Linked DNA regions of Homo sapiens: regions 1, 2, 4, 5, 6 and 7 are each linked to region 3. The links come from fine-mapping of genetic effects on gene expression. A gene starts in region 3. Each other region holds a variant in brackets. All regions are shown on one strand. Distances are between the middles of the regions.

Evidence for each region. PIP is the estimated chance that this variant, and not a neighbour inherited with it, causes the effect.
Region 1: its variant is fine-mapped to the expression of ACSF3 in whole blood (TOPMed, PIP above 0.99).
Region 2: its variant is fine-mapped to the expression of ACSF3 in blood mononuclear cells (TOPMed, PIP 0.99).
Region 4: its variant is fine-mapped to the expression of ACSF3 in sun-exposed skin (GTEx, PIP 0.97).
Region 5: its variant is fine-mapped to the expression of ACSF3 in breast (GTEx, PIP above 0.99).
Region 6: its variant is fine-mapped to the expression of ACSF3 in monocytes (TOPMed, PIP above 0.99).
Region 7: its variant is fine-mapped to the expression of ACSF3 in whole blood (TOPMed, PIP above 0.99).

Annotation. Positions count from the first base shown.
Region 1 is chr16:89,116,856-89,120,917 of GRCh38, forward strand. It overlaps ACSF3 (acyl-CoA synthetase family member 3), which reads left to right. Exons shown (of 11, transcript NM_001243279.3): 7 at 3,946-4,058. Among named protein-coding and RNA genes, the nearest start is that of ACSF3, 25 kb to the left of the region's middle. RefSeq lists a silencer at 1,666-1,960 and an enhancer at 1,666-1,960. The variant C/T (reference allele first, on the strand shown) is at 2,109.
Region 2 is chr16:89,143,064-89,147,125 of GRCh38, forward strand. It overlaps ACSF3 (acyl-CoA synthetase family member 3), which reads left to right. Exons shown (of 11, transcript NM_001243279.3): 9 at 2,204-2,338; 10 at 2,875-2,986. Among named protein-coding and RNA genes, the nearest start is that of LINC00304, 14 kb to the right of the region's middle. The variant G/A (reference allele first, on the strand shown) is at 1,762.
Region 3 is chr16:89,091,342-89,095,403 of GRCh38, forward strand. ACSF3 (acyl-CoA synthetase family member 3) reads left to right here and starts at 2,511. Exons shown (of 11, transcript NM_001243279.3): 1 at 2,511-2,655. RefSeq lists a silencer at 2,275-2,684 and an enhancer at 3,105-3,294.
Region 4 is chr16:89,012,644-89,016,705 of GRCh38, forward strand. No RefSeq gene overlaps it. Among named protein-coding and RNA genes, the nearest start is that of CBFA2T3, 37 kb to the left of the region's middle. The variant A/G (reference allele first, on the strand shown) is at 2,024.
Region 5 is chr16:88,552,768-88,556,829 of GRCh38, forward strand. No RefSeq gene overlaps it. Among named protein-coding and RNA genes, the nearest start is that of ZC3H18-DT, 7.2 kb to the right of the region's middle. The variant C/T (reference allele first, on the strand shown) is at 1,965.
Region 6 is chr16:89,169,696-89,173,757 of GRCh38, forward strand. CDH15 (cadherin 15) reads left to right here and starts at 2,053. Exons shown (of 14, transcript NM_004933.3): 1 at 2,053-2,178. The coding sequence starts at 2,137. RefSeq lists a silencer at 1,489-2,128. The variant G/A (reference allele first, on the strand shown) is at 2,087.
Region 7 is chr16:89,131,473-89,135,534 of GRCh38, forward strand. It overlaps ACSF3 (acyl-CoA synthetase family member 3), which reads left to right. Exons shown (of 11, transcript NM_001243279.3): 8 at 1,664-1,790. Among named protein-coding and RNA genes, the nearest start is that of LINC00304, 26 kb to the right of the region's middle. RefSeq lists an enhancer at 2,597-3,496. The variant G/A (reference allele first, on the strand shown) is at 1,771.

The sequences.
Region 1 (4,062 bases), 26 kb after region 3:
GCGCATCTCCACGATGGCTGCGGCACCAGCTGTTTCTTCGGTGGCTAAAGCTCTCTGGTGGAAATAAGATGGGGACCTTGAAATCAAATGTGACTGGTCTGTTGAGTCTCTGTCCTTATCGTTGTCCTTCTTAGTAGGATGTGCTGGTTTTGTCCAGTGCCACCGGCCACAGTCACCACGTAATATGGACGGAATGAGCAAAGCCCGGCTCGCTGAGGCTGCAGGCTGCAGGCAAGTGAGGACTGAAAGGGTAACGGGCTCTGGGCTTTGTCCTCTCTTTGTTCCGGACATGTGAGCAGGACAAGTTCTGTGTATTCAGAATCTGTCTGCACAGTTTGTAGTTCATGATGACTGTTCATCCACAGCATTGCTTTGTGGGCGTCCTCTCTTTTGATCTTCTCGAAACAGCCCCTGCGATGGGGTCATATTTTGCACTCACATACAAGAACCCATGAGCCTGCCCACGGTCACGCGGCTGGTGAGTGATGCACTTCCCAGGAGCACGGTGACCTCTTCAATGGCCCTCACTAGAGAAGATGGACAGTGCCCCCCTAGCCTTTTTTACTGGAACAGATACAAGGCTGAGAAGCTGAAATCAGGAGCAGCCCAGGGACCACTGTCTACACCGAGGGAGTCATGAGCAGCCCAGGGACCACTGTCTACACCCAGGGAGTCAGGAGCAGCCCGGGGACTGCTGTCTACACCGAGGATGTCAGGAGCAGCCCAGGGACCACTGTCTACACTGAGAGCGTCAGGAGCAGCCCAGGGACCGCCGTCCACACCAAGAGCGCCAAGGAGCAGCCCAGGGACCGCCGTCCACACCGAGGGCGCCAAGGAGCAGATAGTAGCCCAGAGACCCAGGGGAGGCTCAGCTTCCCCACGCTGGAATCAGAACTCCTAGGCGAACAGGAAGGAGCCCCAGACAGATGGCACAGGGAGAGGAGTCCCCGGCTGAGGAGGGGGATCCAGAGACCCTGAAGCTTCAGGGTTATTGGGCAAGAAACCTGAGTGCACCAATCCCCGAGTCTTCAGCTACCGACGGCAGGTTCCCTCGGGTGCCGGGGATGCTCCCTCTTCTCTAAGGCAGAGCCCACAGTAGGTTCCCTCAGGCGCCAAGGACATTCCCTCTTCTCTAAGGCAGAGCCCACAGCAGGTTCCCTCAGGCGCCAGGGACGTTCCCTCTTCTCTAAGGCAGAGCCCACGGCAGGTTCCCTCGGGCGCCGGGGACGCTCTCTCTTCTCTAAGGCAGAGCCCACGGCAGATTCCCTCGGGCGCCGGGGACGCTCTCTCTTCTCTAAGGCAGAGCCTGACGGCAGGTTCCCTCGGGCGCCAGGGATGTTCCCTCTTCTCTAAGGCAGAGCATACGGCAGTTTCCCTGGGGCGCCGGGGACGCTCCCTCTTCTCTAAGGCAGAATCAAATATCTGTGATTTTATCCTTGCCTTTAAATCACCAGCAGTGTGAGTTCTTTGGTTTGGAAAAAAGTAAGTAAAGTCACCTCAGCATTAAATCCAATATGCCCCACAAAAACTCCAAAATGCAGCCTCCTGAGCCATGTTTCTAGAGGGCACGGTGGAGGAGAGCTTTCCTCACTCTCAGGCTCTAACCCCCACCCTGGTGGCCATGGCCTTGACCCTTGGGTCGGCTCCAGCCACAGGCTCTGAGCTCATGCTTGGCCTCGCTGCTCAGTGCACTGTCCGTGCTCGGAAGAGAGAGAAGCTGGGTGGAGGGTGAGCTCTGTCGTGTGTTATGGTTACAGGCCTGCTCCGTGCGGTTCCTGTGGAGGGAGATGAATAATTCATGGCCGACCACTGCTGGGCCTCGTCACACTCTAATTGGAGGTTGAGCTCAGAGGTGCTCACGGCTCCTGGGCCACTCTGTGGCATTGACAGGGAGCTCCAGGGCCTCATTGGCGGTTTCCGTTCCCTGGGTCCCAGTCCCCAGTCAGAGTTATCAGGGAGGGGCTGGCTGACAGCGATTTTAGAGGTGGGCTGTGGCAGGAAGGCAGTGCCCCCCACCTGCCTGCAGCTGCGCTCCCATCTACATTGGCCTTTGCGGGGCCAGCCTCTGTCCACTCTCTTGAGCTCTCATGTCCACACTGTCACATGCC[C/T]GGGGCACAGCGAGCGGCACCTGGAGTGTGGGGACCCCTCCCTCGAGCTCTCACGGGTGGCACCTGGAGTGTGGGGGCCCCTGCCTCAAGCTTTCATGGGTGGCACCTGGAGTGTGGGGGCCCCTCCCTGAAGCTCTCACGGGCGGCACCTGGAGTGTGGGGGCCACTCCTTGAGCTCTCATGGACAATACCACTGCTTGGCTGCTGCAGAATCCAGACACCATCCCAGAGCCTCTTCAGCCTCTGCAGATGGTGTGGGACGGCCACACGGCCTCCCCACCTGCGGCCCCCGCCCCTACCCCAGCCGTGCCGTGTCCTTGCGCTGCGTCCCCGCCCCAGTAGAGGCATCACCAGGAAGAGGCGAAAGGCCGCCTGTGATGGTCCTCTTCTTATGAAACGCCCAGAACAGAAAAACCACGGACGCGGACAGCAGACCTGGTGCCAGGTCTGGGGAGGGAGGGTGTGGCGGTCGTGGGCTGTGCGGGAGTTCTGACTAGGGGAAGTGGGGGGCTGTGCAATGTGTGTGCGGAACACCGCCGTGCCGCGCACTGAAATGGGAAGTCATGTGTTATGCGGGTTTCACCCCCATTTAAAAATCTTCAGAAGCAAAACATAAAGGAGGAGAAAGGATGGAAGAAAGGGGGCTGAAGCTGGCCCCGCCACACCCCCCATAGTGGTGACACGGGTTTCTGACCAGAGTGGAGGTTCGGGGCGTCTGCATACCTGGAACCACAGAGAACTCCCGAGGTGACACTCCGCACACCACACTAGCCCGGCTTCGCCTGCAGGACCCCAGGTGTGGACAGGCCCAGCAGGATCAGCAAGACCGAGCCGGGCACCGACAGCCCCTCACCAAGCGTCTGGAGGCCGGGACGCCCCATGGATTGCAGAGTTCACTGCACTGACCCTCGATGCTGACCCTTGAAGTGCCGGAAATCTCAGCGTGGACTCAGACATGATAAGCGTTCAGGCACTCCCCTGACGCAGGCCAGGGCAAAGGCCTCACGCCCCGGGATAGACAGGAAGTCCCACGTCTGCTCTGCCCCTAGGTCATGCCCGTGCTGACGCCACATCGCCAGGGCCGCACTCCATGAGCAGCCTCTGCCGTCCCACCAGCAACCTAAACCACAGGCAGAGCGAGGCTGCGGCAGCCCTGCGTGTGCCGGCGGGACACGTCTCGCCACCTGGGCTCTGCCCCCACCCCGGCCAGTGTAAGATATGATTTTAGCCACGTTGAGACTGTGCAGGTGGGATGGATACACTGAGCAAATCATGGGTGTCTAATAAATGAGCCAGTACAAAGTGTGGTCCACCTGCCATGCAGAGTTCAGGACAGCCCCTCCTGGGGACATAGGGCAGATCCTGCCTTAGCCCGTCGTGTGCCGGGCACACACAGGTCCCCTCATCGTGGACAGCCCCGGGGCCATCAGGGCAAGGCGCCAGCCCTCCCTGGCCAGCAAGTGTGTAAAAGTGGGAATGACACCAGAATCTGTGGGCAGCTGTGAGGCTTTGGGAAGTAACTGGGAAAGTGATGTATGAGGGGCCCAGGGCAGGCCAGGCCCAGCGTGCCACGTGAGTGCCTGCTGTGCCACATGGCCATCACTGTGGCATCGGCTGGGCCTGAGCACACCGTGCTTGCCAGCCACGTATCGTGTGGCTTTTCACCTGCTGGTGCCTACACCATCTTCTCTCTGGGTCACAGGGCACGTCGCTCCCTCCACACAGACTCCCGCACGTGGCACACGGGAGCTCAGCGGGATCCGAGCTCAGTGTGTGCTTCTCTCCTCCAGGTTCCTCTCACTCCAGCCTCCCCTTCAGTGTTTCTCCTCTCCTGTAGGTTCCGTGGGGACCCCACTGCCTGGAGTACAGGTGCGCATTGTCTCAGAAAACCCACAGAGGGAAGCCTGCTCCTACACCATCCACGCAGAGGGAGACGAGAGGGGGACCAAGGTAA
Region 2 (4,062 bases), 52 kb after region 3:
CAAAAAGCAACATTTTAAAACTTATAAAAAAGATTCGCAGGAAATTAGAAATAACACACAGGGGTTCCTTGTGCCGTCCCCCCAGTTTCTCCCAGCATCAGCCTGGTGTGTAACGGTGGTACATCCTCAGTGCCGTGCGTAGCTTTGGTGCAGTCTCAGCCCCGTGCGTAGCTGTGGTGCAGCCTCAGCCCCGTGAGTAACTGTGGTGCATCCTTGGAGCCAGGACACAGGCAGCTCAAGAGGGTGCCGGGGACTTGTCAGCCTTGGGGGCAGGCAGTGATGGCCTCTCCGGCAGGACCAGAGCAGGGCAGTGGCTCCATGCTGCGCTGGGTCTCTGGGTGGTGCAGGCCAGGGTGGAGCCAGGCCAGAAGCTGTATGGAGGGCCCTGAGCACCTGGCAGCCTCCCTGGTGTCAGCAGCTGTGGCATCCGTGGGGCAGGAGCAGCCTGGACGGGGTGGCTCGGTGCGATTAAGAGATGCTATTGGAAGATTGGTGGCTGTCTGGTCCAGAGGGGACACACAAGCCAGGCTGCACAGCAGGAGCAGGAGCCATGGCGGGTCCCACGGGACTTGGGACAGGCTGTGTCCAACCCCGCCCACAGCCCAACCTGCACACCCCCTTCCAGCCGCCCAGACTACCCCAGGGGCGCAGTGAGACCACTCTCCTGTCGGGGAGCCTCTGGTTTTTCTGCTACCCATCAGCACAGAGTTCCAGAGTTCCAGAGCTCCATAAATAAGCCTGGAGCCCACCTGGGCACACCCATCCGTCTTGTTTAATAGACTGAGGAGCACGCCATGGGTCTCAAGGAGTGGTGAGGTGGATGGATGGGGCCTTTCTGCGTCCAACAGCATGATGTATAATGAAGTATTTATGATTTATTCCAGCTAATAACCCATGTGGAGTGCAGGGTATGTGGAAGCAGACAGTTGAGGCCTCAGCACTGCCCTTACATGCCCTGCATGCTCCCACAGCCACGGCACACATGTGTGCGTGCACATGCTCACAGTCACGCATACCGCGCCCTCCCAGCTGCACACACGCTCGCAGGCACGCACACTATGGGCCCATGCGTCATGAGACAGCTTCGGGCTGGGAGTACAGGCTCTGAGGCTGCAGCCCGCTCTTCCCGACTCCCCACCCTCAGTGGCTGGTGGTGTCTGTGTTGAGCTACTCGAGAAAGGAAGAAAACGAAGGAAGCTTGGTTCCCACAGGAGCTCCAGGAACTGCACGGGGAGGAGCAAGGGCCACGTCGTGGCTTTGCCTTAGGAAGGAAAACGTGGGGCAGCCCCGGCCATTGTTCTAGGACCAGCATGGTCAGGTGTGGAGGGCACAAGATGGGCACCAGCAGGAGGCTCCAGGCACCCAGGAAAGGCCCTGTCCTCCTCAGCCACCAGCCCCTCCCTGTGGCCTCTGCGTGGGCCTTGGTGCCTCTCCCATCCAGAGGGGCTGGGCATTCACTGCTGGAGCCCACCGTGGTGGGATGTTGTAATGTGTCTGGTTCACTTCTTTTACTGAATATTTGGCCTGGATTCTTTTGTGGGCCTGAGAGAAATGGCAGGACAGGGCCTGGTGGGCCTCGGCCCCTCTCCCAGAGCAGCCTGCCTGCATGAGGGGCGGCCCCTCTATGCTGCAGTCCCAGGGGCTCCGTCTGGGGGCCCTTGCAGCAGTAGCAGCACAGCCAGGAGGCCCAGCACACCCTGGCACCCATCCTGAGGGAGGGTAAAGCATCAGACCCTGTGCTTGTTGCTCAGAAAAGGCCAC[G/A]CATCCCACCCATGGCCAGTGGTTATCAATCACTGTCACAGAAACAGGGCCTGAGCCGGCTTCCTAATGCAGGGTGTCTGCAGACCACAGGCCCAGCAGGGCTTCTGGCACCTCCTGCTCCTGGCAGGCTCTGGACCCACTGCTGACCTGCCCCTGGAGGAAGTGCATACAGCTGAGCATGGGGAAGGGACCCCACAGGAAGGGCAGACCCCACATCATGGGCACAGTCCCACCTTGGGACGCACGTCGTGACCACCAGGAATGTGGGCTTACCTGGCATAGCTGTTTCTCCGTTGGGGTTGCCACAGGGTAGTAACCAGAGCCCCCTTTCCTCAGAGGACACCGTGGTGTTTAAGGACGGCCAGTTAACCAGAGCCCCTTTTCCTCAGGGGACACCGTGGTGTTTAAGGATGGCCAGTTAACCAGAGCCCCTTTTCCTCAGGGGACACCGTGGTGTTTAAGGATGGCCAGTACTGGATCCGAGGCCGGACCTCAGTGGACATCATCAAGACTGGAGGCTACAAGGTCAGCGCCCTGGAGGTGGAGTGGCACCTGCTGGCCCACCCCAGCATCACAGGTGCGTGGCCGGACTTGGGCCAGGGAGGCCAGGCTAGACGGGTGCTGCCTTCCATGTTTGAGTTTTAGACGACTGCAGATGAGTCGACGCCGTCCCAGCTGCCTGCAGGGGTCCCTGTGATGCTCACCTCTGGTCCCTGCCCTGGCCAGGGAACATGGGGCTAGTGGGGGTGCAGCCTGCTCGGTGTTGGAGCCACTGACCCCGTGCCCACCAGAGCTCCCAGGCCTGGCCGGGCGCAGCTCCCATCTGCATGATTCCCCTGCAGGAAGGTGGCAGGGAGAGTGCAGAGAGCCAAGGGGCGGGAAGGCAGAGCCCCTGTGAGTGCCCAGTCCCCAGATCCACCGTGGGGAGCCCGTCCTCACTCCCCTCCCCACAGGCCCAGCCAGCACCAGGACGAGTGATTGGAGTGGGGCCTGTCCAAGGACGGGCTCCAGGGCTGCGGCCAGACTGCGCTCTTCCTGTGTGTCCAGGCACTCTTCGGCCTGTAAGGGTCACTGAGGCATCCCCATGTTCTCAAACTGTTCTTCTATCCGCAGATGTGGCTGTGATTGGAGTTCCGGATATGACATGGGGCCAGCGGGTCACTGCTGTGGTGACCCTCCGAGAAGGACACTCACTGTCCCACAGGGAGCTCAAAGAGTGGGCCAGGTAGGGCTGGGTGGGGCGGGCAGGGAGCACTCATGGGGTCTTGGGGGTCCAGTCTTGAGGGCCACCCTAGGTATTGGCATCGTCCGTCTTAGAGGTGGAGATGAGGGATCAAGAAAGACCAGCAGTGAGGGTCCTTAGAGACCTGAAGGCCGCACACAGCAGGTAGAGACGAGGGCAGGGGGCAGGAGCCGTGCTCAGATTTGACTTGGTGGCAATATTCCGAGGGGGCAGAAACTCACATTCCTGGGACAGGGCCCTGTACGGCCTGTGGTGGGTTCCGTCCTGGTCCCAGGAGAGATCCCGGATGAGCCAGGCCAGGCCCATGCAGGAGGTGCATGGAGCTGAGATCCAGGGTTGACACCAGCTGGCCGCACGCGCTGGGCCCTTCCCCGCCAGGCCACAGGCAGCCTGTCCACCTGCCGCCCCAAAGCCAGTGCTGGGCCCCAGCAGAACTGCAAGGCCCACCCATTCTCCGTCGGCACCTGCACGGCCTCTCCCTCTCCTGCCCTGGGGGTGGGTCCTGAAGGTGCCTCACACACCTCCAGTCAGTTCCACGGAGACCCCAGCACCATCACCATCCCCTCAGTCATTTCACTTTCCCCTCCATGTCCAGGGCAGGGCCTGTTCCTCAGCGGTGGCCACCACCCAGTCCTTAAACTCACCTGCATTTTTTGTTTTGCCTTTACCTTACCCAGAACCTTTCCCCAAGGACTTTCTCCCACCTGTCTCACCCCCAGTGGTTTCTGATGCATGGGATCCACAGACCCTCCACTTTTGCCAGCAGTGGTGGTGGTCACGCCCAGGGCTGAACCTGAGCTATGGCCTTGTCAAAGGCCGTCAGGACGGAAGGGTATCCCATAGGACCGTCAGGGCAGAGCCAGGCTGAGCTCAGAAAGGAAGCTTTTAGTTTCACCTACAGTAATTTCTTTTGTTTTTTTAATTTATAAAGAAACGGGGTATAATTGGCTCATGGTTCCACAGGCTATACAGGAAGCGTGGCTGGGGAGGCCTCAGGAAACTTACAGTCATGGCAGAAGGCAAAGGGGAAACAGGCACATCCTACATGGCCGGAGCAG
Region 3 (4,062 bases):
GGTTCTTCATGAATCCAGTGAGGACTCCTTTAGGAAACAAGGCTTTCCTGGTCTGGGTGGTTACAGCAGCGCTGGTGGGACAGTCTCTGACAGAATTTGCAGGAGAAACCAGTAGGACTCAATGTGGTGTGGGAGGGAAGCAGGGAGCCATAGACTGAACCCCAGGATCGAGGGTGAGATGCAAAGTGTGAGGGTGGGGGCGCTGCTGCGGGGGAGACCTGAGCTCCTCTGGGGCCACATCGGGGTCTGATGTCTCTTGGATGTCCCAGTGAGATGCCAGGTGGGCACTTAGGACCCTCCCTGTCCACATGTTCTAAACTACATTGACGTCGTCTGCCTGGTTGGTGCGGCCACTTTCACTCCCTGCGCTGGATGTTCTGCAGCCCTTCGTCTGCTAATGTCCACGAGTTTACCTGACAGCTGACTTCTCTCTGTTTTCTCTGCCCTCCCTTCCTGAAACTACCGTATTTAGCATATTGGATGCCTGCCTGAGCCCACTGATTTTTTTATCTTTCCTCTCCTGTTTTTCATCTCTCGGTCTTTCTGTTCTATTTCTAGGAGACGTCCTTTAGCCCTTCCCTTAGGGTTTTTACTCAGGCTGTTGTATTCTGACCCCTCCAGCCCCCCTTTATGTTACTGGAACGCTCTTTCTCGGGGCATCTCGCTCTGGACTCATGGGGGCTGTCGCTTCCCTTGTCTCCCTGAGGGTATTAACAGGGGGTGGTTTTGGGGGTCTCTTCACTCTGCACAGCCTGGCTGCCTGCAGTTGTTCTGCTGGTTGTTTCAGCCCACGTCTCTCTGGCTAGAGGCTGTCCTCCAATGTCTGCTAATCCCTGACTGCTCCTGCTTCCCACCTGCCACTATGATGCTGACCAGAGCCGAGGCACAGATGGGACCCCTGCTCATAGGATGACTGGGCCATTTCTCGGAGACTGCACCCTCCCCCCACTGCCACCCTCACAGAGCCATGGCCAAGGACCACGGGAGCTGTCACCCTGTCCCAAGTCCTGTCTCTAGGTGGGTGACGCAGCCTGAGCTCTTCAACTTCCCAGGGATAGAAATTTGCGCACACACGTCCTGGGGCTGAATCCTGATGTTAGACGCCCTCCTTACTCTTCCTACTGCCCTCGTCGGAAACACCATTCAGCCTGCTGAGTCCTGGAAGCAGACAGAATTCTGACACCAGATCAAGCCTGTCCCAGTGGCAGAGGGTTGGACTTGCTTTTTCTGCATGATACCTAGCAGGGTGGCAACCAGAGGCACTAGAAGTTTGGGTTTGTTCTCCCACGCTCTGTGTTACAAACTTCCCCCAGATCCAGCTCCTTCCTCCCAGGAAAACCATCCTCGGGCTCCTGAAGTGCCCTTTCCTGAGCTTTCCAAGGACACAACTGCTGCCCCAGCAATCATCACAAGAGAGGAAGATGGGCATGGAAAATAATACACTTACAAAAAAACTGTGCAAGGTTCTGCAGATAATTTTTTTTTTTTTTTGAGACAGTCTCACTCTGCTGCCCAGGCTGGAGTGCAGTGGCGCAATCTCAGCTCACTGCAGTCGCCACCTCCCAGGCTCAAGAGATTCTCCTGCCTCAGCCTCCCGAGTAACTGGGATTACAGGCACCTGCCACCACTCCCGGCTAATTTTTGTATTTTTAGGAGAGACAGGGTTTCACCATGTTGGTCAGGCTGGTCTTGAACTCCTGACCTCGTGATCTGCCTACCTCGGCCTCCCAAAGTGCTGGGATTACAGGCGTGAGCCATCACACCAGGACGGTTCTGCAGATAATTTGTACTACTGTTTGCCAGTACATGTCTTTGTGTTATTAGTATTCATTTTAGGGGAAAAACCCTCAAATTTCAGCCAACTGGACTTTGTGTTTGGCTTTAAATGTTTTCCGCCACTGTCCATCCAACAGTCTCGCTTCATATTCGTATCCTGGTTCCCAAGTCCCTTCGAGGAGAGATTCTCAAATGCGGTCCGTTTAAAATCACCCAAGAAATACAAAAATTAGACAGGCATGATGGCGGGCGCCTGTAGTCCCAGCTAATTGGGAGGTTGAGGCAGGAGAATCACTTGAACCCGGGAGGCGGAGGTTGCGGTGAGCCGAGATCACACCACTGCACTCTAGTCTGGGCGACAGAGCGAGACTCCATCTCAAAATAATAATAATAATAAGAAAAAGTAACAACAATAATAATAATAATAAAATCACCCAGGAGCTCAGCGTGCAGACCCCCAGCCGCAAAGCCCAGAGAGCCCCTTTTGGGAGGACGGGGCGAGGCCCAGCAATCCGCGTTGGGAGTGGTCCCGCGCGCCGTTCTGATCTGGGCAGCCCTGGGCTAGCGGAGACCACGGCGCCTTGCCTCGGCCACGGCTCACGAGACGCCCGCGGCCCCGACCCCGCCACGACGGGACGGGCGGGACAGGGGAACACGCGCGCCCGGAACCCGCCGCCACGGCGCCGCGCCGGGGGGACGCGCTTGGGCGACGGACGCGCCGCGCCGGGGAAGCTGTTGGGCGCCGGAACTGGTCCGGCCCGACTCACGACCCCGCGGGACCCGGCCGGAACCCGGCCCGACCCCGGCGCGCGCGCGGCGGAGGACGAGGAAGAGTTGTGGCGAGGCAGATCCTGCCCCGTGGCCGCGGCCGTCTCGTAGGTGCGGGCGGCGGGGCCCACGGGACCGCGGCGGGGTCGGCCGGGCGCAGAGCTCTCGGGGGCGCGGGCTCCGGCGCCCGCCCCTGGGTCGCAGCTGGGCTTGAGCCGTGGCCCGTGGCGCGGTCGCTTCCCCGCGAGCCGCCTGGGGCCGGGCGTCGGCCTTCCCGGGACGCCGAGCCTCTCGTGTCCGGTGGGGAGCGGGGCCCCCGCGCGGGGTGCGGGGAGAGAAGCTGTGCGGACGCCGGGCCCGGTGATACCGTCGAGCCGGCGGGGTCCGTGTTCAGGCATCCTCAGAACGAATCGTCTTTGGTTGTGTTTGGAATAAATTCACTTCCATTTCTCATTGGGCTTCAGAAGTCACCCTTGAAGTACTCCCCGTTTTAGTTGTTTGCTGCGTGCACCTTGCTGGGCGCGTGGGGCACAGGTTCACAGCCGGCCTAGCCCCTGAGGGCATGTAGATCTATGAGCAAGCAATGGAGACGTGCGGCCGGCCGTGAAGTATTTGGAAGGTACTGCAGGCAGCCCATTCCCTGGAGAGAGGGAAGGTTTAAAGGGGTGAGGCCCGGTGCAGTCAGGAGTTGATGTTGCTGTCCTGAGTCTAAATTCCACCAGGCAGGCCAGGTGCAGTGGCTCATGCCTGTAATCCCAGCGCTTTGGGCAGCAGAGGCAGGAGGATCACTTGTGGCCAGGAGTTCAAAGCCAGCCTGGGCAACATGGTGAGACCCCTATCTCTACAAAAAAATGTAAAAATTAGCTGGGTGTGGTGGCGTACACCTGCACTTCCAGCTACTGGTTAGGCTGAGGCACGAGGATTTCTTGAGCCCAGGAATCGGAGGCTGCAGTGAGCCATGACAGCACCATTGCACTCCAGCCTAGGTGGCAGAGCAAGACACTGTCTCAATAAATAATAAAACTGAAAAAGAAGAGGTGATATTTGAACTGGGCTTGGAAGAATGATTAGGAATTTGCTAGAAAGGGAACACGTTTAGAGATAGGAACACGAATTGTGTCTGGGGCATAGTTGTTGCTTTCCCATCCTGGGAGGACAGACATTCGTGTTAGGGCCCAAGGCTGAGACCTTGTTGAGGAGGGGGTTCACATGGTGGACCCAGGAGCACGGGTGTTACTACCGGTGGACCCTGGGGACCCTGCGAGCTTTGTAGCGTGAAGCCTGGCTCAGGCTGGTGTCCTCTCCGCAGGTGTTGGAGGACATAAGATGAGGCTTCCCTTGCTCTTGCTCCTTTGGCTCTGAACCATCTCCTCAAGGCAGACAGAAATGGCGGATTAAACTGTGGGCTTGGGATAGTTGTAAGTGTCACCTTTCCAGATGGCATTTTTAAAATAGTATTTTTCTTCCTAAAATGGATATGGGTTTCAAGTGTATTTTTCCTTTTTGGTTTTTTTTATT
Region 4 (4,062 bases), 79 kb before region 3:
CTCACCCATTCCTCCACCCACCCACCCTTCCATGCACCCACCCACCCTTCCATGCACCCACCCACCCATTCATCCACCTGTCCATCCATGCACAGGTATTTGCTGAGCTGGTGCCACATGCACTGGCACTTTGCTAGCCTTTGGGAAGCACAACAGTAAAACACAGGTCATGTTTACCTCAAGTTTCCAATCTATTGTGAAGCTGCAGGCAGAGGCGAACTCATCTTGGGGGCTTGCAGGACACAATCCCATGAGGTAGAGAAGTAAATCAGGCAGAGGTGAACGCATCTTGGGGGCTGCAGGAAGTAAAAACATTAGCACCTGGGTTTGTGTGTCTTTTCATCCCATCTCATTCTTTATGTGACTCCTTCTGTATACCAGTTTTACAGTGCAGGGGGGTGCTCAGGCACGTCTCTCTGTTTAGGGGCTGCAAGGAAGTGAGCCACTGGGTGGCTGAGCCACGTAAACAAGAAGAGGAGTAACAATCTAAACTGAAAGGGCTTGTGGCTGGGTCACAGTCTGCAGGAGAAGGGAGGGTTCATCCGGGTCTTGGATGAATTTGTTGGATGGGAAGTTGGTGAAGAACATTCCGTGGGCAGGACAGGTGCAGCCAGCAGGGGTGGAGAATGAGAAGACACTCAGGGCATGGAGTTTTGGAGCTGGGGCTGCAGGAGGCGGGGACAGAGGCACTGTCGATGGGTATGGCTTTGATGCTGGTTCGCAGGCAGCCTGAATTCCACCTGGTCGATATCAGAAGCTGCTGAAGGAGGATGAGGGCATCTGGCCTCAGCCATGAGACTGATTGAAGCTCTGTGGGGACCAGGAGGAAGTGGGGGCTGAAGCTGCTGGGCAGGGGGTTGGGGGAGATCTGGCTGAGTCTGAAAGGTAAGGTGCTGTTCGCAGTGGCAGGTGTGTCATTAACTTGCTGTGGAACCAAACACCCAGATCTCAGTGGCTTCAAACAACAGCAATGTGCCATTCTCCTGGGCTGACAGTTGGGGATGGCAGCTGGCGCCCCTCGGGTCTCCTACAGGCAGCCGGCAGCTCCTTCCATGGGGTTCTCTGGGCGGCTGCGCGAGGGCAGAGGTGGAGGCCACGCAGCCTCTTAGGGCAGGACACCACTTCCACCACGTTCTGTGGGTCAAAGCAAATCAGACGCCCACCCAGGCTCAGGAGGGGGACCTCCACCTCTTCATGGGAATTTCAGCAAATCCCTGTGGTCGCAGCGCCGGGGGCCCAGTGTCTCCCGAGTGCGTCCACATGTGTGCTGAATGCAGGCTGTGGAGTGCAGGGGAGAGAGGTGAGCGCCTGGGCGGGTGAGCGGGGAGAGGTGAGCACCTGGGCGGGTGTGCAGGCAGAGAAAGAGTGAGGAAGGTCCACCTTCAGCTGGAGCTGAGGACAGGGCTGCATTTGGGGAGGAAAAGGGGCCAGATGGGAGTTCTGTGCCAGGCTGGGGTTCGGGTCAGGAAGGCTTCTCCACAGAGCGGCGTGATCACATCTGGATCTGGCAGGAGTGGGGAAGGACAGTCAGGAGTCGATGGGGAGATGGGACTGGGTGGGGGCAGCAAGGATGGAAGGTGGGGAGACAGACGCTGTGGAGGCCCAAGGGGACTCTGGCTGGTGAACGAGGACACCCCCAGGCTCTAGGCCCCCACCCCAGGGCGGAGAACCCCCACTTCCCAGGTCCCGAGGGAGCCCTGTCTCACTTCTCCGCTGAGGCCAAGGCTCGTTTCCAAAGAGGAGAGGAAGAGGGGAGGGGAGGGGAGGGGAAGGGAAGGGAGGGGAAGAGAAGGGAGGGGAGGGGAGGGGAGGGCAGGGGAGAGGAGGGGAGGGGAGGTGAGGGATGTTCAGATCAAGAGCCCCACTGGGGAGAGCTTTAAAAAATGCAATTAAATGGAAAATAATTAAATCCAATTAAAAATGAGCAGTGGGGGGTGGGGAGTGGGGGGATGCTGGGACTGCAGGGAAGGCTTGGGCTGCCCTGTGCAGTCTGCAGTCTTCCTGATTGCACTTTCGAGGTGGA[A/G]AAAGGAGGCCAGACCTGGCCCCCAACACTGTGGGAGCGCCCAGTGGCTGCAAAGCCGGGGCCACCAGGCCACGCTCTCCTGGGACCTGCCCCGCTGGACCGGGGACGTCTGTCACCGCTTCTTTCCCAGCCGCTCTCTCCCACCTGCTGGGGCTCCCCAGGGCCCCAGGCCCCCTTTGGAACACCCAGTCTTGCTCTCCTCCAGTCAAGCCACATTCCATGAGAGCACCTGAAGGGGATTGGCTAGGGGCCGCCTCGAGACCCTCTGGCGTGGAAACCGTCAGCTGGTGAGCACATGGGCCAGCCGGGGTGTTTGTTACATGTGCATTTCCTGACCCCGCCCAGTCTGGCTGGATGGATCCTGGGCATCTGAATTTATGTGAAGCCCAGGTGGGTCAGGTGGCAGTCAGGTGGCTCAGGTCACACCTGGAGACCCCATCTAGTGCCGCCCCCTCTTTACAGAGCATTGCCTGGGGCCCTCCTTGCTGAGCTGAGGGACGGCCCAGGCTGCATCCCCCCGCCAGGAGGTGGCCTCTGCTGGGTCCTGGAGAGCTGGTTCCCGAGCTAAGGCCAGAGGTGCTGCTGAGGGGTCTTTGCCTAGGCCACTAGCAGGGGCTGGATGAGGAGGGGGGCCACGGCTTTGGCGGCTGGTGCCTGACCTTGGCAGAAGGACCAGGAGGGGGACGGCGGCTTTGGCGGCTGGTGCCTGACCTCGGCAGGAGGACGAGGAGGGGGATGGCGGCTTTGGTGGCTGGTGCCTGACCTCAGCAGCAGCCTTCCCCGATGGGCTTCTGGGAACTTGCTGCCTCCTCCCTGGGCTCCCAGCTGCTTCCCTCCCCTGCAGCACCCCTCTCAGATCTGCCACGGCTGTATGCAGGTGGCTTCACCCCTGGGCTGGGAGCTGGAGGAGGCAGACCTAACAGGCGGTGGGCCCAGCCCAGCAGACATAGCCGCTGCTCACAGCAAGGAGTGCAGGGACCTCAGCAAGGCTGGCTGCCAAGGTGGAACCACTCTGCCGAGGCTCCCTGCACCCTGCACGAGGCTCCCCACACCCTGCCCAGGGCTCCCTGCACCCTGCACCCTGCCCGGGGTTCCCTGCACCCTGCACCCTGCCCGAGGCTCCCCGCACCCTGCCCGAGGCTCCTGCACCCTGCCCGAGGCCCCCTGCACCCTGCCCGGGGCTGGCATCCCACACTCTGCACAACAAACGCCTGGTCCTGGGGCACGGGGGCTGTGGGGAGGCGAACTCCACGCAGGAGCAGGGGGCTGAGGAGGGCCTGTCTGCCCCAATTAACACTCCAGGATCATCGCTGAGCAGAAACCCCATTCTTGGAGGTAGGGCCTAGAGAGGCCTAGAGAAGACATCATTTTTAATTTAAAAAAATGTAAATGTTAAATAGGGAAGACATGCCTATAACACCAAGCCCAACAGCTAGCACAGTCAACAGTCAGCACAGTCAACAGTCAGCACAGCCAACAGCCAGCACAGCCAACAGCCAGCACAGTCAACAGCTAGCATAGTCAACACCCAGAACGGTCGACAGCCAGCACGGTCAACAGCCAGCAAGGTCAACAGCCAGCACAGCCAACAGCCAGCACAGTCAACACCCAGCACAGTCAACAGCCAGCACGGTCAACAGCCAGCACGGTCAGCAGCTAGCATAGTCAACACCCAGAATGGTCAACAGCCAGCACGGTCAACAGCCAGCATGGTCAACAGCCAGCACGGTCAACAGCCAGATGGTCAACAGCCAGCACAATCAACAGCTAGCATAGTCAACACCCAGCACAGTCAACAGCCAGCACAGTCAACAGCCAGCATGGTCAACAGCCAGCACGGTCAACAGCCAGCACGGTCAACAGCCAGATGGTCAACAGCCAGCACAGTCAACAGCCAGCACAGTCAACACCCAGCAGAGTCAACAGCCAGCACAGTCAACAGCTAGCATAGTCAACACCCAGAATGGTCAACAGCCAGCACGGTCAACAGCCAGCAAGGTCAACAGCCAGCACGGTCAACAGCCAAGCACAGTCAACAC
Region 5 (4,062 bases), 540 kb before region 3:
GAAGGAGACAGAGACACAGAGGAGGGGCTGTATGAAAACGGACAGCGAGAAAGCCACCAGCCAGGAGCTGGAGAGGCAGGAAGGGGCCTCCCTGAGCCCTGCAGGGAGGGCAGCCCTGAGACCTCTTGGTTTCAGATTTGTGGCCTCCAGAGCTTTGAGAGAGTAAATTTCTGTTGTTTTAAGCCTCCCACCTCCCGGCTGGTGGTCACGTGTGACGGGGCAAAAACCGAGCCCCGGACCTCACAGGGGTAGAAACCGAGCCCCAGGCCTCAAGGCTTTGCACCTGGGTTCTTGCTATTTAAGTGCACGCTGCACCTCTGACAGCAGCGGGGAGGCTCCTCCAAGACACAGCTGCGTGGCGGCTCTTTCTCCCACGACACAGCATGGCCAGAGGCCCACAGGACGCCACAGAGGTGGTGCCAGCCGGGCTCCCTGGGCTTTTCATAGACCTGGCATCACAGGTGCCACTAAGAGGAAACATTTTGCCAAGTCCTTCAGATAGTGCTCCCAAGAGCCACGGTCGTTCTACTTTATTTTTCTCAAAGCCACGGTTTCAGGTGAGAGAAGAGTTTTCTCTGTCTCCCTCAAACCTGCCATGAAAAGTGAGTTAATCTGCCAGGCGCGGTGGCTCACGCCTGTAATCCCAGCACTTTGGGAGGTTGAGGCAGGCGGATCACAAGGTCAGGAGATTGAGACCATCCTGGCTAACACAGTGAAACCCCATCTCTACTAAAAATACAAAAAATTAGCCGGGCGCAGTGGCGGGCGTCTGTAGTCCCAGCTACTCGGGAGGCTGAGACAGGAGAATGGCATGAACCCGGAAGGCGGAGCTTGCAGTGAACTGAGATGGCACCATGCACTCCAGCCTGGGTGACAGAGCAAGACTCCATCCCCCCAAAAAAAAAAAAGGAAAAGTGAGTTAATTTCACACTCAGGAGGGACAGCATTGGTCATTTAATAAAGCTGCAGAAGCTTGCCTAACTTCAGTGCAGTAACCAAAATTAACGAGTTTATACACTTTCCATTAAAAGACACTTCGTGTGAATGTAGAGGGGAATGCGTGCCGAGTGGAGATCCACTGCTGTTTTGTGGGATCTGGGGAGGAAGGAGTCAGCCCCGGTGGGTTCCTGCAGGGCTGCCGTCTGCAAGCTCCAGCCAGGGCGGGACGCACGCAGTGCAGAGCTGGGACGGACGCCCGCAGTGCAGAGCTGGGACGGATGCGCAGCTGAAATTCCGGCACTGCCACCTCCTCTCTCTCTGACTTGAGCCTGGGGTAGGGGGATCTTCAGTGAGGTCTGGAAAAAAATGACAGAGATGTTATTGCTTCTGTGAAAACCCCAGTGTGCCTGGGGACATCGGCCCAGGCTCATCACTGGGTCACCGCCGGAGGAAGGCCTCCGCGTTTGCTGGTGGCCTCATCACAAGTATAAAATGTTTACAGCCCCAGCTAGCAGAGAGGTGGGAGCCTGGGCAGGTCACCAGGAAGCCCCGGTCAGGCTGGGGTGCTGGTCTCTGGACGAGGGTCCTGTGGCTGCTGGAACAAAAAACCCCAGAGTTAGTGGCTTGAAACCACACAGCTTCATCCTCTCACAGTTCTGCAGGCCAGAAGCTAACGCAGGTTTCTCAGGGCTAAAACTGAGGTGTGGGCAGGGCTGCTTCCTCCTGGAAGGGCTCCGGGGAGAATCCGTTCCTCGCCTTTCCCAGCTTCCAGAGGCTGCCTGCGTTCCTTGGCTCTCAGCCCCTCCTCCATCTTCAGAGCCAGCAGGGCAGCCTCTCCTCTCCTCTCTGACCTGCTGCCCGCCTCTTACGAGGACCTTTGTGGTTCAGGGGGACCCGCCCGGATAATCCAGGGTCATCTCCCCTCTCTTGATCCTTAACTCAGTCATATCTGCAAAGTCCCTTTTGCCAGTGGGGTCCCAAGGGAAGAGCAAGGGTCAGGTCTGGAGCACTCAGGAGGAGAGACT[C/T]GAACCTGGAGGTTATGGGCGAGTTCACACCAGGCCCCTGCCCTTGCCTTGTATCTCAGGGACCCAGTCTCTGTCCCAGCCCTCCTCCCTACTCCTTCCGCTGGTCCCGCCTCAGCCAGGCCCCTGGGAGCATTCGAGTCCTCATCTGAAGACCCGCAGCAGCAACCTCGGCCCCACCCCCAGCCCAGCTGGGCCTCCCTGACACAGCCTTCCCGCCTCCTCTCTTGAGCAGGGATGGGCAGTGGGCAGCTGGGAGGCAGGGAGACAGGGACAAAGGACTCCCCTTCCAGGGCTGGTCCAAGCCCCTCCATGCTGGCGCCAAAGGCCTGGTTGGCTTTGAGGGAGGCCCTGCAGCTCCCAGCCTCCCCGCTCCCTCCCACAGCTGCCAACCCTCCACCAGGGAACCCTTGTCTGAGCCAGGGGCCACCGCCCTTCCCCACGGCCCCATTCCTCCAGCCTTGCAAGGCGCCAAGCAAGGGGCATCTCTCTCCCTCGGGCCTCATCCTGCACGCCTGACCTTTCCCATCCCAGGTGTTATCATAACCTTTTAGCAGAATTTTGCCTTAATTCTCAGCATTTTTGGCTTTCTTTTTTTTTTTTTTTTGATAGAGTTTCACTCTTGTCACCCAGGCTGCAGTGCAGTGAGGCGATCTCGGCTCACTCCAACCTCCGCCTCCAGGGTTCAAGCGATCCTCCTGCCTCAGTCTCCCAAGTAGCTGGGATTACAGGCGCATACCACCACACTCAGCTAATTTTTTGTTTTAAGTAGAGACAGGGTTTCGCCATGTTGGCCAGGCTGGTCTTGAACTCTTGACCTCAAGTGATCTGCCTGCCTCAGCCTCCCAAAGTGCTGGGATTACAGGCATGAGCCATTGCACCCGGCCCCCATCCCAGTGTGTTACCATAAACTTTTAGCAGAATTTCCGCTTAATTCCCAGCATTTTCAGCTCCAAGTCTTAACACTTCCCCTCTGTCTTAATGTGGCTCCAGTGGCCCTTCGTCTCTCCCCTGCCCCTTCCATGCCTCCCGCCCCATCCCCACCCCCTCTGCCCACCCCCTGGCTCCTCTCCACCCCCAGCCCCTCCACAGCTCTTTGTCTCCACCTCTAAGACTGGGGCTCCTGGAAGCCACTGGTCCTCATCTTATTATCATCCTGGTCTCCACGGAGCCCAGGACGGAGACTCACACAGCTCAGTGGAGCGTCGCCAAGCTCGGAGGGCACGCAGCACCCTAGCAGCACCTGCAATGGCACCTGTGCTCTCTCTCGGGAGGAGATGATGGCCCCAGCTCAGGGCCCAGAATTCGCGCCTGACTGTGCCCCCTTCCGGACCTAAGGACCGCCCTCTGCTGTGCTGGGACTGCCTATGTCTAGACAGAGCGGGGCTCACTCCCCGACCCAAAGGGTTCCCCAGAGTGTGGCCCCATCTCCAAGGCCCTGCTGCCCCCACTGAAAACCCGCCCAGCCCATGGTGAGCACCGCAGAATTCACAAGGCGCTTCCTGCAGACACTTTCTCCCAAGCGGGCCATGCCTTCATTGCTACTCAGATCTCCCTAAAGCCACTGATGTGGTTTGGCTCTGTGTCCCCATCCAGATCTCATGTCGAATTGTCATTCCCAAGGTTAGGGGAGGGGCCTGGTGGGAGGTGACTGGATCACGGGGGTGGATTTCCCCCTCACTATTCTCAGATAGTGAGTTCTCACGAGATCTGATGGTTTTAAACTATGCGGCACTTCCCCCGCCCCCCACTTTCTCTCTCTCTCTCCTGCCGCCATGTGAGGACGTGCCTGCTTCCCCTTCACCTTCCACCATGATTGTGAGTTTCCTGAGGACTCCCAGCCATGCTTCCTACACAGCCTGTGGAACTGTGAGCCAATTAAACCTCTTTCTTCATAAATGACCCAGTCTCCAGTAGTTCTTTAGAGCAGTGTGAGCCTGGACTCACACAGTCACCCATTTCCGGGACCTTTACCACCAGGCCAGGCAGCCACCAGTCACTTTACACACAGCATCTCGTTTCCTAGCACCTGGGCGAAAGTGCTGTTTTCAGCTCTACTTACAGGCAAGGATGGAAAACCCAGAGGGTTCAGCCAGCCTCA
Region 6 (4,062 bases), 78 kb after region 3:
CTGATGGTCCTGCAGCCGAAAATGTACCCCTGCCCCCACTGCACAGGACCTCCAGACTCAGGGTACCCAGCCCTTCCCTGCCACCTACCTCTGACACAAGGAGAAACTGAGGCACGGGGGAGAACCTCCAGCCCAAGGCTCCGAGCTGGGACTGGACCCAGGCTCCTGCCTCCTGACCTTCCTGCTGCCCTGGGAGCATGTGGAGCGGGGTCCCTCGCGGGGGCACCTGCCCCTGGGGGATAGCCCGCCAGCCAGGGAGCACACCCTCCCGCAGTGGTTAAGCCGGCTGCTTCCCTGGCCCCGCCCTGCATTTGGGGCTCACCCAGGACCTGGCCCAGCTTAGCCTTTCCCTTAGAGACCCCCACATCCCATGGAGGAGGGATTTGGCCTCCGTTTCTCCCCGAGGTGGGTGGGAGGCAGGTGGCTGAAGCGAGGTGGGTGCAGGGTGGAAGCGGAGAGGAGCTGGGGTTGGCAGACCGCAGCCTCCCCAGACCTCTTTCTGGGGGGAGGGCGAGCACTTCTACCTCACCCCTGCACTAGTCCCGTGAGGATGAAAACCAAAAGCACTCAGAGGGCTTCTCCACCCCTATTTTGAGGTCACTGACCACAGAGGCAGGATGGTGGTCCCCAACAGGCTACACCCCAGCCCCAGAGGCCTCCCAGTCTGGAGATGGACTCCCTGCCCTCTCTCATCTTGGAGCAGTGAGCGCTAGGGACAGTCCTGGCCTGAGCCTCCCGGGCAGCCTGGCCTCCTTTCAAGCAGGCCAAGTGCACAGATGCTGCCTGCACCTGCACAGCCACCCGCCGTCGACAGGAGAGCAGAGGTACCGGGTCTGCTCCCATCACAGAGAGGAACGGGCTCCCCGGCCCGGCCCTGGGCTGGTCGGCAACCCCCACTCCCCACCCTGCCTGCTCAAAAGAAAGGATCCTCCTGCCTCCAGCCCCCTCCACCCCCTCTCCAGGACCTTCCTGACCGTGCGCTGGGCCTGTGCAGGTGTTGAGCCACACCCACACCATCCCAGGGGGCGGGGTCTCGAAGGGGAGAACAGGTGCCACAGTCAACAGGAGGGAGGGCTTCTGGCCGAGGTGGCAAGGAGGCTCCAGGAGGCGGCAGCGTTGACCTTGGGTGTTGAGGGATGATGAGAAGGAGTTCTGTAGGAAGGAAGGTGCTCCAGGCAGGGGGCCTCGGGGAACAAGGGGATGCTGGAGGAGGTGCGTGGACTGGGGGAATTGGGGGTGTCCTACGAGCCACGCTGGTATCAGAGGCGTGTGAACCAGAGCAGTTCCATACTGAATAAGAGCTGGGCAAAATGAGGTCGCGAGGAGGTGCGTGGAAGGCGGGCCTAGCGTTCAGTGGGATGCGGGGAGGCGCAGGAGACGCAGCCAGAGAGGCGAGGGGCCCAAGGAAGTGCTCAAGAGGTGTCCCCCGGCAGGGACTACAATGCAGATTCCCTGGAGCAGGGGCGAGCCGGGCCCAAGGAGCAGGAAATGAAGAAGCCAGGAATCCCAGCTGGTCCCTGACCCGGACGCACCCACCCTGCCTTCCCCACAGCCTGGCCTCTGGCTCTGCTCCCAACGCAGCAAGCCGGGGTATCTCCGACCTAGCCCTGGCCCTGCCCGCCGGAACCCCGCAAAAGCTATCACTCAGCCCTCGGCCCCGCCCCGGCCCCACCCCGGCCCCACCCCGCACTCTCACAAGGTGTCACTCAGCCCTCGGCCCCGCCCCGCCCGCCCCATCCTCCTCTGGCTCCGCCCCACCAGCCTCGTGCGGTCACCGCCCCGCCGGCGCACCTGCGCTGTCACTCAGCCCTCGGCCCCGGCCCCGCCCCGCCTGCCCCACTCGCACACGGGCTATCACTCAGCCTGCGCCCCGCCCTAGCTCGCCAGAGGCTCCGCCCCACCCGCCTGCCAACACGCTGTCACTCAGCCTTAGCCCTGCCCAGGCCGGCCCTCGGCCCGTCAGAGGCCTCCTTCGTGCTGTCACTCAGCCCTTGCCCCGCCCCCTCCCCGCCCCCCTCACACGTGCTGTCTCTGTCTCTGGCCCTGGCCCGCCCCGCGCACTTGCGCTGTCACTCAGCCTGGACGC[G/A]CTTCTTCGGGTCGCGGGTGCACTCCGGCCCGGCTCCCGCCTCGGCCCCGATGGACGCCGCGTTCCTCCTCGTCCTCGGGCTGTTGGCCCAGGTAAGGCATCGGCACCTGCGGGGGTCCCCGCTGCCTCCCTCGACGCTGCGGGACAGTGTCTTCAACTGCAGCCGCACAGGTCTCCCCCAGAACCACTGGCCCTGGTCGCCTTTGGGGGCCTGTGAGCGGAGTGGCTCCGGGTGGGTCCCTGGGCTGGGGGCAGCACCCCAGGGGTTGTGGGGAGTGAGTGTAACCAAACACTCCATCTGGTGGAATCACCCCCAGGACTGCAGAGTGCTGCTGGGGTCAGGGACCCCAGGCAGGGGCCACCCAGGTAGCCGTGCCCTCTCTTTGGAGGAACCGCTGCCGGGGTCTGGGGGTTGCCAGTCTTGAGTGGAGCAGAGAGAGGGGGGAGCGGCAGGAGTGCCCCTCTCTGGGGGGCTGGGGGCCAGGTTTCTATAGGGACTCCCTGCGGTGGGCACAGGACCCCTGGCTAGTCTTGGGTTTTGTCCAAACCCCCCACCCCAAGTTCCTGGCCAGCAGGGGTGGCTGCAGGCCCTGCCCCCAGGAACTCACCCTCACGGCTACTTCTCGATTGGGAGGGCCCAGCCCGAGCCAGGTCGCAACACACGGCCTTGCAGAGTGGCGTGTGGCAGCCCTGGGGGCTCTGTTCCTGGGCTTCACCTGGGACCCTGCCGCAGCTGCCTGGGGTGATCAGGCCTGGGGGCCCAGCCCCCAGAGGCTGCTGGACTCTGCCCCTAAAAATCTTGTCTGGACTGCTGGCACCGTGGTCTCTCCAACGTGGGAGCAAGCCAGAGTGGAAGGAAGCCCAGGCCTCAGCCCCCCACACCCGACATGGGTACTGCCTAGCTGGAGCCACGTCTCCTCACACCCTAGGGGGACCTAGACATGGAGGATGTGGCCTCAGTGGCTTCAGCCCCCAGGGACTGGGCTGGGCTGGGGCATGGCCGGCTGTGGTTGGGACGTCACTGGGTACAAGAGGGCAGCCTCTCTCTGGCCAATTCGAGAGAGAATGCACATAAAGGGCTTAGCGGTGCTCACAGTATTCATTGCTCTTGTGGTCCTGGGGTGGTCAGGGAGTGCTGGACACAGTGAGTAAGGGAAGCCACTCCTTTCCCAGCCCCCACTGAAGGGGCTTCCTGAGTCCCCTCATTCCCACAGGCCTCCCAGCTCCAGCTGGCTCCAATTTCAGCCCCTGGCAGCTGACCAGGCGCCTGGCCAGCCAGACCCTCCAGCAGCTGCCCCTGAGGGCACCACGGCTCCTGCCACCCCCGACTCCCCCATCTGGAGACAGTGGTGGGGGGAGACAGTGGCTCAGCATGCGTGCTCACCCCCCGGCCCTCCACCCCTCAGCCCTCTGCCGGGGAGCGCAGGCTGGGGGGCTCCATGCCTCCAGGGCCCTTCCCCACCTGCTCTGGGGACAGGGTTTCTTCCCTGGCACCCCAACCCAGGGCATGGTGGTGGGGAGGCTGGCGCCTGTGAAAACATTCCTCCAGACCTCTTCCTTTGGATTTGGGAGTGTCTGCCTTTCAAAAGGCCCCAGGGGGCTCTGTGGCAGGTGGGGAGGCAGGCAGGACCTCTCCCTCCTCAGAAGCCTTCCCTCTCACTGTCCCTTCTTTTCTCGCCCAGGGCTGGGGGACAATAACCCCCTCCCCCGACAGCTGGAGGCTGGGGGAGGTGGTGGAGGTGGGGGCCAGATGGCAAGGGGACTATCGCCAAGGCTCAAATTCACTCCACTGTGAGGCAAAATATGTCAGTGTCAGGACCCTGCCTGCCCCTCCCCCAGCAGCTCAGCTTTCAGGACTGTGAGCTCTCCTGGGCAGCCTTGGGGTCCTGGGCCGCCTCCTGGTGAGCCCCCAGGCAGGCAGCGTGGGCCCATCAGGGCCTTCTACAAGTGAGGGGTTGCTCCCCTGCTCGGGCCAC
Region 7 (4,062 bases), 40 kb after region 3:
CTGTTGTATTCTTTTTCTATATGAGTTGCTATTTTTCTGGTTTTTTCCCGTGTTGAGTAACTTTGTATTGTACCCTGGATATTTTTAATGTTAGGGATGAGATTCTTGGTCTTGTTGACATTCTGTGAAGATGTTGAGGTGTTTGTTTTACTGTGACTTGGTTGGCTTAACTCTACAAAGTCTGACCCTCCTTCCCTGGGATTGGTCTCATTGTCATTTTATTTGTAGGGCCTTTGCCTTGCTGTCTCTACATGTCCCACAAGTGTACTGACCAGTGGCCAGTCTGACCACGTCAGTGGAGCAGATAAAGGACAGCAGTGGAAAAATTCACGAAATTCAGATAAAGTCCGTGGTTTCTTTGAAAAAACAAACACAAGGCTCTGAGCAGCCAGGAGTTAGGCTGGGCACTGCACGGAAAGCCCCGTCACCATGTGGGGCAGGTGTTTCACCCCCGTGGGTGGCGTCAGCCCCTCCTGGAGGAGCCCAGGCTGGCGGGTTGGCAGCCCCGTCATCATGTGGGGCAGGTGTTTCACCCCCGTGGGTGGCGTCAGCCCCTCCTGGAGGAGCCCAGGCTGGCGGGTTGGCAGCAGGACGACACACTCGGCAGAGGCTGCCATGGGGCAGTGTTGGCCCCACGGCGTTTGAGCGCCCTTTCTCCACATCAGATCAGTGTGTTCTGCTATTTCGCAGCTACTTCCCTGGCCCCTGGTTTTCTGAAGTCCATTCCAGATGGCAGGTGATGAGCCTCAGTGAGACTCTTGTACGCATCCCTTGACCTCCGGGGTCACAGCCAGTCACTTTCACAGTAGAGAAGAGTGAGGGTCGTGGAGCTGGCAGCTGCTCATCTGAAGCCCCTGCTCCTTCTCTGCCCTCCCCAGACCCTCCTGACCTATGAGCCGAGGGCTCGGCCGGTGTCTTCACAGACCCACCGTGTCCAGGGCCTCCCGTGCCATCTGTTCCTGGTGCTGCAGGGACCCCCAGCCCAGGCTCATATAACCCAGCCTCCCTCCCGCCCTCTCCATGGTCACAATAGAAGAACAGTGAGGCTGTGTTTCCTGGGGCCATGGCAGTGCCTGCATGCTTAACAGGGGCCTCCAGGGACCCTCCACCCTCAGGCCCCACCTTCCCTTCCCACGGAGTCTTCCCTCTTGTAATTGGTCACTCAGCCCTGTGGAGGGCGCTGCCCGCTCCAAGCTGCCCCAGCCCCTGTGGGCAAGGTGTGGACAGGTGCCCGCTGCTGTGTTCCCTGGTTTGAGAAACGCCCCCGAAGATGGGATTTGGGCACAGGTTTTAGACGTGGACAGGCTGCCTGAATCCAGCCCAGGCTCTGAGTGCTGAGGCCTGGGCCGGTAACATGCTCAAGTCTAGAGGATGGGGTAGGAGCACGTTCTTCTGTGGCTGTTCTGGGAGGAATGAAAGGACACCCAGCTCCCGGCCAGGGCACCAGGGCCCACAGAGGACGGCGGGAATGCTTAGCTCAGCATGGTTGGCTTCCACCTGTCAAAGCTGCGTTTTCCAAGCATTCCAACAAAGCGCTCAGTTTCAGAAAGCACGCGGCCCTGGGTGGGCCCTGGGTGGGCAGGGAGCAGCCCACAGTTTCAGAAAGCACCAATCCCAAGAGGGTGTGCCCAGCTCTGACCTCCATGTTCTTCATCCTCCACAGGTGACCCCAGGGTTTGAAGAAAAGGAGGGGGAGCTGCTGGTGAGGGGACCCTCCGTGTTTCGAGAATACTGGAATAAACCAGAAGAAACTAAGAGTGCATTCACCCT[G/A]GATGGCTGGTTTAAGACAGGTAGGACCCAGCCCCATGGGAGTGGAGGAGACCCCGAGGGGACAGGCAGGAACTCATTGCTGCCCACGTTGAGTGACACCGAGGCTGGGAGTTCCCAGAATTTTCAGCCAAAGGCAGAAGATGGGGTGGAGTGGGGCTGGGGGCCACTGTTACGGCACTGCCTCCTGAGCACCCGGCCTCCCCACCGGCTTCTAGAGTGGGCTCCTTGGCCCTGTCCCTCAGTGCCAGGGGCCCCAGTGCCCCATGACAAGGCTTCTACACTGTCCCTCAGCGCGACAGCCGCTCCGGCACGCACGCACCCTGACCACAGACGCCGGGCCCCACGCAGCCCTTCCTGGTGGCCCTGCTGCCCCTCGTGGGCTGGGGCACCCTCCACCTCCGAGGTGTACCCCTGTACCCAGAGACCTCACCACCCCCACGCTTAGCCACACTTGTGCCCTCCACATCCTTCTCCCCACCAGAGTCAGAAGTCAGCTGACGCAGTGCGGTTGGTTTGCAGTGCGGCTGTTTGTTTACTGTTCCACAAATTAGCACATTCTCTCTGCCTGCCAGAACAGGCCTGTGGGTGAGTGGGAACCTGCCCACCTGATTGAGGTGGCCCAGGAAGCCTGTGGCGGTCAGGAGAGACGGCGGCGCCCCTGGAGCCTGCTGGCAGCCCCCACTGCCACCCTCCTGCTCTCCCTGAGCCTGCCCTGAGCTGCTGCTGCCTGACCCCCCTCCTTTGTGAGAAGCTGGCTTGGTCCCAGGATCCCACATCCCGCCCCATGGGGCGTATTTGGACAGTGGATATTTCGACATTTGGATAGTGGACGTATATGGATGGACATTTGGATAGCGGACGTATGTGGATGTGTTACTAGGGGGTCCTTGCTCCCAGAGCTCCCAAGATGGTAGCGGGCAGCTTCCAAAATGGCGGCAGGCTGCTTCCAAGATGGTGGCAAGCGTCGTGTTCTCTGACCTGGGGTTCTTGGCCTTATGGATTCCAAGGAATGGAATCTTGGGCCATGCGGTAAGTGTTATAGCTCTATTAGAAGCCGTGGGCCACAGAAAAGAACCATGGAACCCAGTGACTAGTGTTCAGCTTGATTAGGATGAACGTGGGTGCTTAGCCGTGCAGGAACAATGGCGAGCCTTTAGGCCAGTCGGGAGTGGCAGTGGGTGCCTCGCTGGATCAGGAGCACAGTGGACACCCTGCGGGATCCGGAGGAATAGAAGTCAGCGGCGGGTCTGCAACGGCGGCAAGCAGCAGTGGTGGACGGCGAGCGAAAGCTCAACTTGAGCCGTAACTACCACGGACCAGAAGAGAGTGTAGTTGCAAGATTTAATAGAGTGAAAACAGAGCTCCCATACAAAGGGAGGGGACCCAGAGAGGGCAGCCGTTGCCAGGTTTATATCCCGATCATTGTCCCTCCTGCTGTGCTCTGAGGAGATAGATGATTGGCTATTGTTTACCTCCTGTTTTAGCCTAATTAGCATTTTAGTGAGCTCGCTTTACTACCTGACTGGTCGGGTGTGAGCTAAGTTGCAAGCCCCCTGCTTAAAGGTGGATGTGGTCACCTTCCCAGCTAGGCTTAGGGATTCTTAGTCGGCCTAGGAAATCCAGCTAGTCCTGTCTCTCAGATGGACATTTGGATAGTGGACGTATGTCCATGGATATTTGGATAGCAGACGTGCGTGGGTGGACATTTGGAGAGTGGACACACGTGGTTGTGTGGCTGCAGGTACTCACTGTAGTGTATTTATCCGGAAGATGTGCACGTTGCTCCTGACCCCTGGGTGGTGAGATTGCGGTGGTTTTTCTTTTCCTGGTTTTTTTTTTTTTTTTTTTGGCCTGTCTATATTTTATGCTGAACATCATTATTTTATAATAACCTTTAAGTAATATTTTCCAAAAAAAAGAGGCCCATTTTCATGCATCAGAATCTGCTGGCCCAAAATCAGAAACGCATCTGCCCCATGCCCTTCCACAGGGAGCAGAGCGGGGGGCTGCAGCGTGCAGGCGGGATGGGCTCCTTGAGGGATGCTGGAAGGGGCAATGTTGGCCTGCAGCCTCTCCGCCTCATGGCCTGATCCTGTGGGTCCCAGAGGCCCTGGAGCATGTGCTGCTGTGAGGCAGGTGTGCTAGGTGTGTGGCAGTTCCGCACGTTTGCAAAGTGAAGGCTCCGTGAGCCCCTAGAGCAGAGGCCAGTGCCCCACGCAGCATCTCATAGGCTTCCCAAGGTACCCTGGGAGGCACCTTCGTGGGCTGGACATCAGCAGAGGACCCAGGGCT